Linked DNA regions of Homo sapiens: region 2 is linked to region 1. Evidence: fine-mapped expression QTL. Tissue or cell type: left ventricle. Region 1 holds a variant in brackets; the other region holds the start of a gene. All regions are shown on one strand. Distances are between the middles of the regions.

Region 1 (7,736 bases):
ACTTCAGCACAGCATTTTGCTGGAGATGATGGAGACCCCCACTCCAACCAGCCCATCCTCCATCCCTCGGCCACTTATTTCACTTAGTGCTGAAAAGCCTCCTTTGAAACACAGTCCAGTCCCCTCATCTTACAGATTTTGAAATGGGACTAGAGAAGAAAAGGATTATATTCAAAGTCAGTTGGAAAGTAAGTGGCAGCCGGGCGTGGTGTCTCACACCTGTAATCCCAGCACTTTGGAAGGCTGAGGCAGGTGGATCACTTGAGGTCAGGAGTTCGAGACTAGCCTGGCCAACATGGTAAAACCCTGTCTCTACTAAAAACACAAAACTTAGCTGGGTGTGGTGGTACGCGCCTGTAATCCCAGCTACTCAGGAGGCTGAAGCAGGAGAATCACTTGAACCCAGGAGGTGGAGGTTGCAGTGAGCTGAGATCGCGCCACTGCACTCCAGCCTGGGTGACAAGAGTGAAACGCCATCTCCAAACAAAACAAAACAAAACAAAAAAGAAAGAAAATAAGTGGCAAAGACAGAAATTTTATTCATTCATCAGACATTTTTCTGAGTACTAGTATACATCAGGTAACTAGTATACATCACAACGTGACAGATGGATGAGTGATCTGTTTCCCTGCCCCAAGAAACTCACAGCCCAGGAAGGGAGATAGAAAGGAAAAACCCAGAGGGCACAGTGACTCACGCCTGTAAACCCAGCACTTTAGGAGGTCGAGGTGGGCAGACCACGAGGTCAGGAGATGGAGACCATCCTGGCCAACATGGTGAAACCCTGTCTCTACTAAAAATACAAAAATTAGCTGGGTATGATGGCAGGTGCCTATAATCCCAGCTACTCAGTAGGCTGAGGCAGGAGAATCGTTTGAACCCAGGAAGAGGAGGTTGCGGTGAGTCGAGATTGCACCACCGCACTCCAGCCCGGTGATAGAGTGAGACTCTGTCTCCAAAAAAAAAAAAAAAAGAAAAAGAAAAAAGAAAGAAAGAAAGGGAAACCCCTCATGCGGTGCCACAAAGCCCTGCCTGGACACTTAGAAGGCGTCCCTCAGCTCGCTGCACACATTTTAACTTTTCTCCATGTATTTTAGGACATCTTCCACGTTGGCAAGTAGAAGTCATTAGAGCAGTTCCAGTGGCTGGTTTTTTTTTTTTTTTTTCCCGAGATGTAGTTTCACTGTGTTGCCCAGAGGCTGGAGTGCAGTGGCGCCATCTCAGCTCACTGCAACCTCCGCCTCCCAGGTTGAAGTGAATCTCCTGCCTCAGCCTCCTGAGTAGCTGGGACTACAGGCATGTGTCATGACACCCGACTAATTTTTGTATTTTTAATAGAGACAGGTTTTCACCATGTTAGCCAGGCTGGTCTCGAACTCCTGACCTCAGGCAATCCACCTGCCTCGACCTCCCAAAGTGCTGGGATTACAGGCGTGAGCCACTGTACCTGGCCTCCAGTAGCTGTTTTTAAGGTAGCATCTAATGAAAGGACTGTGGGGTCATCTGGTCCAAGGCGATGGGGCAGAGATATGGAGCAGTGGTATCAGGGCCCAAGATGAGCCTAAGAGGCTGTGGAATACTCAGGAGGAGTATGAAGGATTTCAGGAAAGAGGAATGATGGGAGCAATGAGACAAGACATAGAGCAGAGAAGCAAACCTTGGAAGAGAGGAAATGGGAGAAGAAGAGGGACAAGTTACAGAAAAAAGAAGAGGCCTTAAAAACAAAGGGCTGGAGGATTTCGAGGAGAGAGTTGTCCCCCCAAAATTTTGCTGAGCACTTAGGTTTTGCTGAGCACTTACTATGTGCTATGCATTGTGCTAAATGCTTTGTATGCATTATTTCATTTTACCATCTCAATAGCCAATAACAAAAGACCCATAATATCCCCATTCCACAAGTGAGGAAACTCAGGCACACAGGTAAAATAACTTGTATGAGGTCCCACCGATAGCACGAGGTGGCTCTAGGACATGAACCCAAATATGCTTGACTTAGGAACCCAAGCTCCTCATGTAGACTCTATTGAACTGTGTTTAGGTCAAGTCAACACTGACTGAAAAAAGGCCACTTCTTCTTCCTTGCTCATGGGACCTCAGTTTAGTTCAGGCATTGGCAGCATTGTGCTCCAGGAAGATGGCCCTCTCCACTGCCTCAGGAGATGAGTCACACACAGTTTAAGCCTATCATACAACCCCATTCTCTTTTGCCTAATGATGCAGTTATGGTCAATGAGACCCAAGGATATGTCTGTTGGCTAAAGATAAAGGATTTCCTCCACAATAAAAATGAATGTGCAAGAAGAAAGCTTTGTCCATACCTTTGAATGGGGCTGTGAGAGGGTAGAGCAGCTATCTTGCAACCACAAGGGGACAAGGCTGAGGATGATGTCAACACCCTGAGGATAGCATAGAGGAACCATAGGAGGCACCTGGGTTAGAGATGCCATCATTTTGTTGCCAATTTATCCAACCCTAGAGCTGCCTGTCTCTTGACTACTTAAGACGTGAGATTACAAATGCCATTATAGTGTAATTACTCTGTTACTTGAAGCAGTAAGCACCTCATAAACCTGCATGATTCCGACTCCCATATGCTGATGATTCTCAACTCTCTAATTCCAGTTCCGACTTCTCCTCTCTCCCCTAAGCTAAAGATTTGTTGGAGATTTCTACTGGGATGTTCTAATAGTATCTCAAATTCATCATACTCCAGCCAGAATACACCATCTTCCCCGATACCTAGCTCCTCCCTCCATTTTTCTTGTCTCGCATCTTAGTGAACAGCACTACTGTCCACCCATTTGCACCAACCAGGAAGCTGAGAGTCATCTTAGGGCTCCCTCTTCTTCTCATCACATGCCTACTTAATCTCTGTGTCAGGCATGGCCCATCTTTGCATCTCACTTGCCGTATTACCATCGTCTGCTTGTGAGTCCGACTCTCTCTCTGGACTTTGAAGACATTGAGGGCAAAGATGGTCTCTATTCATCTCTGTACCCCCAATGCCTGGTACCTAGTAGGCACTCAACAAATGTTTCTTGGCTGGGCGCGGTAGCTCACACCTATAATCCCAGCACTTTGGGAGGTCAAGGTGGAAGGATCACTTGAGCCCAGGAGTTAGTGTGAGACCAGCCTGGGCAACATAGTGAGATACTATCTCTACAAAAAATTAAAAATTAGCTGGTCGTAGTGTTGCCCATCTGTAGTCCCAACTACTCAGTAGACTGAGGTGGGAGGATTGCTTGAGCCTGGGAGGTTGAGGCTGCAGCATGCTGTGATCACACCACTGCACTCCAGCCTGGGTGACAGAGTGAGACCCTGTCTCAAAAAAAACAAAGATTCTGAAATGAGTGGACAAGTGAATGAGTGGGTTAAATATAAAGGAGCAGCTGCATCACTGTCAGACTTGGAGAAGGTTCAGATACTTGAGCAAGTTTTTTTTTTTTTTTTGAGACAGAGTCTCGCTCTTCACCAGGCTGGAGTGCAGTGGTGTGAACTTGGCTCACTGCAACCTCTGCCTCCCGGGTTCGAGCCATTCTCCTGCCTCAGCTTCCCGAGTAGCTGGGATTACAGGCACCCACCACCATGCCCAGCTAATTTTTGTATTTTTAGTAGAGACGGGGTTTCATCATGTGGGCCAGGATGGTCTCGATCTCCTAACCTCGTGATCTGCCCGCCTCGGCCTCCCAAAGTGCTGGGATTACAGGCGTGAGCCACTGCGCCCAGCAGTTTTTTTTTTTTTGTTGTTGTTTTTTTTTTTGGCTGAGTTGGTGCAGCCAATGGAAAAAAAGTACTGGAGATGGGGTTTTGGGGATGATGGAGTAAATTCTAAAGCCTTGGGAAAGAGAGGGACGCTCCAACCTTTGAGTTGGAAGGATGGAAGGAGAGGAATGGATGGAGGTGTTGGGAGGTGGAGAGAAAGGTGTTCATATTTGATGACCTTGATCAAGAGAGCATTGAGGTCAACTTCTGAGGCTTAGGAATCAGTGGTGAAAAAGATTTGGACTGGCCAGTGTGGAACACAACAGGAAGTGCCCTGGAGAGAAATGGAAGGATTGTCTAGGGGCAGAAGAGCCTTGCTGATGTTTCCCAGTACTGATGTGTCATTTGTGAGGAGCCATTCACATGGCCCTGTTGACTTTCTCCAGCCGCACTTGGCAGTCCAGGTGCAGATGCCAAACAAATGGACAGTGGGATCGATTCCAGCCGGGGCGCTGGCAAGGCCAGTGCTGCTGAAAGTCAAGGGGTGAGGAAGGGAAATTCCCACGTGGGCTGTGCTGGACATCAAAACATGTCATTTAATCCTCACCATAGTCCTGCAGGGGAGGTTTTATGATCTTCGGGTTTTTTCCCAGGAGGAAATGAGGCTCAGAGAGTTAATTGGCTT[G/A]GCCAGAGTCACACAGCCACAAGTGGCAGAGCCGAGCTGGGGTTCATATCCACGGCAGCCTGATTCTTCAACCTGTGCTCCCCTCACTGGAGGATTTACTGAGCGCTTATTATGTTCAGGCATTGTGCTAAGTCCTTTCCATCCATCCTCCCGTTCAGTCCTCCAAATAACTTGGTACAGCAGGGATCATAATTTTCCCTGTTTTGCAGGTGAGCTTCAGAGGCTCAGTGAGGATAAGTCACACAGACAAAGTCCCCCAGCAGTGGGTAGCAGAGCCAGCATCAGAATCAGGAAGTTATAAACCAGCATCATTACAGTTATGAGAACATACCGTAACACTATAGTACTGGCAGATGAAGAGACAATTACGGAACACCAGTGGGTGTCTGGACCCAGAGCTCTTAACCACTATATTTACTGCCTCCCTCTCTGCAAGTCACTTCATTTATTTTTATTCCTTATGAATGAAAGTTTCAAACACACAAAACTAGAGAGAACAGTATAATGGGCTCACGTAATCAAACCCAGCTTAACTCGTTAATCATTGCCCCAATATTCCCATACACTTCTTTTATCTTTTCTTTCTTTTTTTTTTGAGACGGAGTTTCGCTCTTGTTGCGCAAGCTGGGGTGCATTGGTGCGATCTTGGCTCACTGCAACCTCTGCCTCCCGGGTTCAAGCAATTCTCCTGCCTCAGCCTCCCGAGTAGCTGGGATTACAGGCGCATGCCACAATACCCGGCTAATTTTTGTATTTTTAGTAGAGACGGGGTTTCACCATGTTGGCCAGGCTGGTCTCGAACTCCTGACCTCAAGTGATCAGCCCACCTCAGCCTCCCAAGCTACTGGGATTACAGACGTGAGCTACCGTGCCTGGCCCACGCTTCTTTTGTCTAAATTTTTTTTTTTGAAACAAAGTCTCACTCTATTGTCCAGCCTGGAGTGCAGTGGCGTGATCTTGGCTCACTGCAACCTCCACCTCCCAGGTTCAAGCGATTCTTCTGCCTCAGCCTCCCGAGTAACTGGGATTACAGGCACTCGCCATCACGCCCAGCTAATTTTGTTTTTACTTTTAGTAGAGACAAGGTTTCACTATGTTGGCCAGGCTGGTCTCAAACTCTTGACCTCAGGTGATCCTCCCACTTTGGTTTCCCAAAGTGCTGGGATTACAGGCGTGAACCACTGCACCCAGCCTCTTTTCTTTTCTTATTTTTTCTTTTCTTTTCTTTTCTCAGAAGGAGTCTCACTCTGTTGTCCAGGCTGGCTGAAGTGGTGCAATCTTGGCTCACTGCAACCTCCACCTCCTGGGTTCAAGCAATTCTCTGCCTCAGCCTCCGTGCCCAGCCTTTTCTAAAATATTTTAAAGAAAATGTTAGACATTAAGTCATTTCACCCATAAATACTCCAATATGCATTTCTCATAGATAAGGATTTTTGTTACATAATCACCATGCCATTATGTTAACAAACAATAATTAAAGTTTTTTTTTTTCTGAGACAGGGTCTCACTCCGTTACTCAGGCTGAGACCTCTGTTGTTTTTGTCTCATGGATCTCTTTTAAACTGTAACAACTGTCATCCCTCTCATTCTTCTGTGCCATTGATTTATCAGAGAATTATTCTGGGTATTATGATTCTCATTTTTATATATCAGGCACTGAAGCTTAAGTGACTTGTAGAAAGTCACCCAGCTAAGCAACAGACCTGTCATTTAGAATTGCTCCCAAAGTCTGTGTCATGAGTGTAGGAAGCTGTAGTGCCCAAGAGGGTCCCAGCTGGGTAGAAGACAGGCAAGGCATCAGGGAGAATGGTCTAGGCCTGGCAAGGAAAAAGGGGAGGTAGAGGGTAATAGCAATTATAATGCTGTGTTTTATTGATTTCAGTGCTTGCAAGTGGCTGGGCATCTACAAAGAGTTTTGAGGCACTATTTTATTCAGTCCTCACAACAACTATAAATAGGTTATCCTTAAATTTTTTTAATCGACAAGTAAAAATTGCATATATTTATGGTGTACCACATGATGTTTTGATATATGTATATATTGTGGAATGGCTAAATCAAGCTATTTAACATATGCATGACCTCACATACTTATTGTTTCATGGTGGGAACACTTAAAATCTACTCTCTTAGCAATTTTCAAGTATACATGTCATACTTATTGTCCTCATTTCACAGATGAGGCACAGTTTAGGGTATGGAGTTGCCCCAAGACCCACAGCTCATGTAGGCAAAGCTGCAACAGGCCTGTTTAACCCTCAAAGTCTATGCTTTTTCTTTTTCTTTTTTTAGACAGAGTCTTGCTGTCTGTCACTCAGGCTGGAGTGCAGTGGCGCTATCTCAGCTCACTGCACCCTCCACCTCCTGGGTTCAAGCGATTCTCATGCCTCAGCCTCCCGAGTAGATGAGATTACAGGTGCCCACCACCACGCCTGGCTAATTTGTTGTATTTTTAGTAGAGATGGGTTTTCACCATGTTGGCCAGTCTCTAAATCCTGACCTCAGGTGATCTGCCTGCCCCAGCCTCCCAAAGTGCTGGGATTACAGGCATGAGCCATCGTTACCAGCCTATGTTTTTGTTTTTTTTTTAATTGTCTCTAGAAAGGGAACTTTTCAGAGATCTGAGATTTTTTTGATGCCTCTTGGTTCAGAGGAGAAAACCCTGGCCTAGGGCCCAGACACCTGGGTTCCATCTCCATCTCTGTTGGAGACCTGAAATGTGATGCCCTGCAAACCATACCCACCCTCAGTTTCTTCATCTGCCAAATGGAGCATCTACAGGAGATGATCCTGAATGGTCCTTCCACATCCCCAGTGGCCAAGTTCTCAGAGGAGTGCTCCGGTGATGACACAGGCCCAAGGGGTGGTGATGCTGGAGAGGAAACAACTGTCCATCTCCCCTTTCATGTCCACATAGTTCAGGCTTGTGGAAGTGCTTCCCTGGTACATCATGGAGCAGATCTTTTTCACATGTGTGTACCTGTTCTCCCTCATTTCCTCCCTAGGAGTGTGAGGTCTGCCCTGCCTTGCTCTGCATTTCCCCTCAAGCCTCTGCTTGGAGCACCCTCAGGAAGTGGAACAGGCGTGGCACAGGGACTGTTTTTTTCTTATGGTTTAAGATCCGTATCACATGCTTTGATGTCATCCTCATTGAAGAATCATCCCAAATCACAGGATCAAACCAATGGGTCATTTGATCTAGTGGCTAAAGCTGGAGCAGTTGGCAGAGGCAGGTCTATGGGGTCTGGGACATGAAGCAGTGCCCTCAGTGCCAGGGCAAAGTCCACTGGGCCTGGCCTGCATGCCACAGAAGGGGAGCAGAATGTCCCAGGACCTACTCACTCATGG
Region 2 (4,000 bases), 26 kb before region 1:
CTTATTAAAGTATGTGCCTTTTGTTCAGCTAGTAAACTGAGGCTTCTGGGGAAGACAGGCTGGGCCATCTCCCACAAAGAGGAAGGTGACGATGCAGTCCAGGGTGAACGGAAGAGAGGTTAAAGCCTATATCTTCCAGCAGCCTTTGCTGGCCTTCCCCTCCCCCCAGAGCTGATCCACAGAGTTATGTGCAGTGTTAATGCCATTGTCATTTGTTCTTGAAGCTTGGCTACTGCACTTCTTAGGAAGGTCAACTTTGCTTCCCTGCAGACTGAGAGCTCCTGGATGACTGGGACCAGGGCTCCCCCATCAGACTAGGATTTCCCAGAGGACAGAGGCCATGGTTGACATCCTCTTCCCCCATCCAGATCACCCTCCTGGCCTCACTCAGGGGAGGAAGGGGGGATCCACCCATTACAGCCACCTAAGAACCCCTGTTCTAACCCACCCTCTCTCTCAACCCCATCTCCAGCCAAACCGCGATCCTCACCAGCTCTCTGCCAGCCAAAGTTCATGGTCTTGGTGGCTGGCCGGGAGGACATCCAGAGGGAGAAGAGGCTGATGAGCATGCTGGCAAAGTCAGTGAGCAGGTGTGCTGCGTCAGTCATGACAGCCAAGCTGTGTGCCAGGTACCCACCTGCAGGGTGGAGGGTCCTTATCAGCTCCCCCAGAGAGCTGGCTCCCAAGACTGTGTGTGCAGCAGGGAGACCACAGGCTCTGGAAGAGGACATTCTGGGCTCAAGATCTCTCTACCCATGAGCTGTACCACCGTGACAAGTGACCTACTCTCTCTGAGCCTCAACTTCCACTCTCTGTGAAATGGGCCACCAATATCTACTTAGAGGGTGAATGTGCACATCAAGTTCAAATAGGGACTGGAAAACATAGCAGATACTCAGTAAATGCTCTTCCCTTCTAGGAATTCAGGCCTTCCCTTAGCTACGAGTTGTGCGTGATCTTTGGCAAGTTACTTCACCTGAACATGCCTCAGTTTCATCATCTGTAAAGTAAGGAGAATAACGTCACCCATGTGAGAACACAGGTTGTTGTTAGACCTGCATCAGATAATGTGTATATAAAGGCTTACTGTAGTGTGTGTTCAGTAATTGGGGCTTTTAGTGTCAGTATTGCTGGGAACATCCAGTCTATCCATGCACCAACTTCATTTAATTAGCCCAAAAGTGCTTACCAACGACTTCTCCGATCATGAACAACAGGCAGATGGCAGAGGCTACATACAGCTGGCGCTGGGCCTTCCCCTTCTTGGGGTCACAGTGACTGTCAGGACCCTTCTGAGCATGGCAGTGATGGTTGCTCTGGGCAGCCAGCTCAATGGCCTGCAAGTCCAGGCCAGGTCGGGGCAGAGGAATCCAGCCAGCCCCTTCCTGCCACAGAGATCCCGTGTATGACCTGGCCAGAGGGGAAGAGAGGGAACGCTCAGCTCTGAGATGAGGTAAGGAGGGCCGACTCTAGTCCCATTTCTCTGTGAGGCCTTGTGTCCACTGGGAAAAATAGCTAAGGACGCTCCGAGCTCGACAAACCAGAGGTGAGAAGCCTGTATTCAGACGGGGATGATAGGGGAATGGGAGTCCTGGGGCCCGGGGCCCTTCAGAGGCCAGAGGAGGTGAAGACCCTGGGAACCGGCCAAGGGGCGTGCTGTCCAGTGGAGCGCGGGGAAGGAACAGAGCGCAGGCTCTGGGAGAACAGCAGGCCCCCTCCAGCGCACTTGGGACACAGGGCCTCCCCGGGGCGGGGCTGCCTGGGGCAAAGTGCTGGGCGGGGCGGGACTCCAGGCATGGGAACCGCCAATCCCCCGGCCCCAGGCCCCCCGCGGGCAGGGGTCAGAATCTGGGCTGCGCCCCAAGGGAGAGACGGTCCTTGGGCCACAGCCCATTATCTTCGTTCCCTCACCTCACCCCACCCCTCCTGCATGGTCCCAGCTCAAGCCGCAGCCAAAACCAACCACTGCTAGGATGGCAAATGCGGAGGTGCGTCGGCTGCCGCCAAAATTCCCGCCCGTCCCCAGGCTCTCGCCTTACCGGATTGCCGGCCTGGCGTCCAACAGATGCTGCTTCTCCTTGGCCTCCATGCAGTCCCGCGCCGAGTCCCGGCAGCCGCGCAGCCGCCCCGCCGAGTGCGCCCTGAAAGTTGCGCGCGGGACTCCGGGTGGCGCTCACCCACCTGCCCCGAGGGCCCCGCGAGGTGCGCTCACTCCGGCCCGGCTCCTGCGGCCCCTGAGCTCCCCCGGCTCCCGCTGCGGCTGCAGCTCCGGCTCTGGCTCCGCGTGCCAAGCGCTCCCGTGTCTCGGGTCAGCCGCTGCGCCCCGCGGCCGCCGGCTTTATCCGGCCCTCGCCAACCCGTGTGAAGCTGCCGTCGGCGCGTCGTGTGCAAAAGCCCGCGGGGAAGGGGGGGCGGTCGCCGGCTGCAAAAGGCCCGGCTGTGGCCCCGCACACCTGTGCCTGCGCCCATGGGGCCCGCGGAGCCCACCTGCCGGCCGCGAGAAGTTTGCCAGCCTTCGCCCGGCGCGGCGCCGGGTGTTGCTGAGTGAGGACGGGGTGACGCCTGCGCCCCCTCTCCCGCGCGGGGTGCGCCGCCTCGCCGCCGAAAAGTTCTCGACTTTAGTTTGTAGAAATCCGCTTTGGTGGTCCCGACGGCAGGAATGTGGCTCCTTGCCTCGGAAGAGGGTCTCCAGAGGCTACTGGGGCCGCGTCTGCCCCCTCCGACTGGCGGCTGCCCTGGGCTTGATCATGTTCCCCTCTCAGGCCGGAGACCCCCCGAGGTCGGCTTGCGTTCCTGTCCTCCTGCTAGGAGGGTCCTGGGGTGGGGTGGGCTGCGCCGCCCTCAGGCTGGGGCAGTGTCTCTCCCTAGGACCGGCTGGGACTGATCGACCCATCCTCGCCACTGAAGCAGCGCCAGCTCCTCCTCTCCTGCGCGCAGGAGAATCTGGAGTGGCCGGCTTTGTCTCCACCCGCACAGAGAACAGTGTCATCGGCAGTCACCATCGGAGCAGAGACGACCACTGCCACTGCTGCCACCCCTTCTCCCCTCCCCCGCAGCGGCTCCTGGGAGCCCCAGGAAGCCTGACAAGCAAGCCTGGGAGATGCAGGCCGGAGGTGCCACCGTGTTGGTACCGCTGGGAGAAGCCCTGTCCTTCCTGGCCAGCTTGGTGCCCCACCCACTTGAAGCAGCCTCCTTCCCTGGCGGTTCTTGGGGATTGGGGAGCCTGTGGCCCCCACGCTGGCCTCTGACAGGTGCCCTCTGTGTAGAAAGAAGCTGCTGGAGACCTCCCTGTCTGGTCAATTCGTCTCCCCAGCACCCTTTGTCGCTAGGACCATAGGCTTGGTGGGTATGGCCTTTCACAGAGCCAAGAGTCAGAGGTGCAGGCCTCTTGCCCACACCACTGGGGACAGGAAGGGGCTCTTTCAGTCTCTCATCTTGTAGGAGACGGGGTGCCAGGAGTGAGGATGTGAGGTGCACCCGCTCTGCTTGGGTCCTCACTGAGTGCCTCTCTGCTTCTCTGGACTCTGGTTTTCTTCTGGAAAACCTCAGACACCCTGGTTTTCTCCAGGTCTGTCTACTCTGAGCACCAGCAGGCTCAGCATTACCTGGAGAAGGTGTTACAACGCAGGTTACAGGTCCCTGCATCAGACCAACCGAACCAGAATCTCTGGGTGTGGAGCCTGAATATTTCCAGGATTCAGTAGGTCTGGGGCAGGGCCTGGGAATCTGTATTTATAAAATTCTCTGGTGCTATTGTGGCATCATTGTTCATTTTTATGTATAGTGGTTTTTTTGTTTGTTTGTTTTTGAGACAGAGTTTCATTTCTGTCTCTGTCGCCCAGGCTCGACTGCAATCTCAGCTCACTGCAATCTCTGCTTCCCGGATTCAAGTGATTCTCCTGCCTCAGCTTCCTGAGTAGCTGGGATTACAGGTGCCCACGACCATGCCAAGCTAATTTTTGTATTTTTAGTACAGACAGGGTTTCACCATGTTGGCCAG

Direction of the effects. Alleles are on the strand shown, and positions count from the first base shown. SD is a standard deviation of normalised expression in the study named.
For the expression in left ventricle of the gene that starts at base 2,311 in region 2, A is the low allele of the variant in region 1 and G is the other (small effect, 0.32 SD a copy in GTEx).

Evidence for each region. PIP is the estimated chance that this variant, and not a neighbour inherited with it, causes the effect. A credible set is the group of variants that fine-mapping cannot tell apart.
Region 2: it holds the start of SLC30A2, and the variant in region 1 is the best candidate, but not a certain one, in a credible set for the expression of SLC30A2 in left ventricle (GTEx, PIP 0.81).

Annotation. Positions count from the first base shown.
Region 1 is chr1:26,068,351-26,076,086 of GRCh38, forward strand. No RefSeq gene overlaps it. Among named protein-coding and RNA genes, the nearest start is that of TRIM63, 4.6 kb to the left of the region's middle. The variant G/A (reference allele first, on the strand shown) is at 4,389.
Region 2 is chr1:26,043,808-26,047,807 of GRCh38, forward strand. It overlaps SLC30A2 (solute carrier family 30 member 2), which reads right to left and starts at 2,311. Exons shown (of 8, transcript NM_001004434.3): 1 at 2,040-2,311; 2 at 1,190-1,410; 3 at 491-637. The coding sequence starts at 2,089. RefSeq lists an enhancer at 1,342-1,910.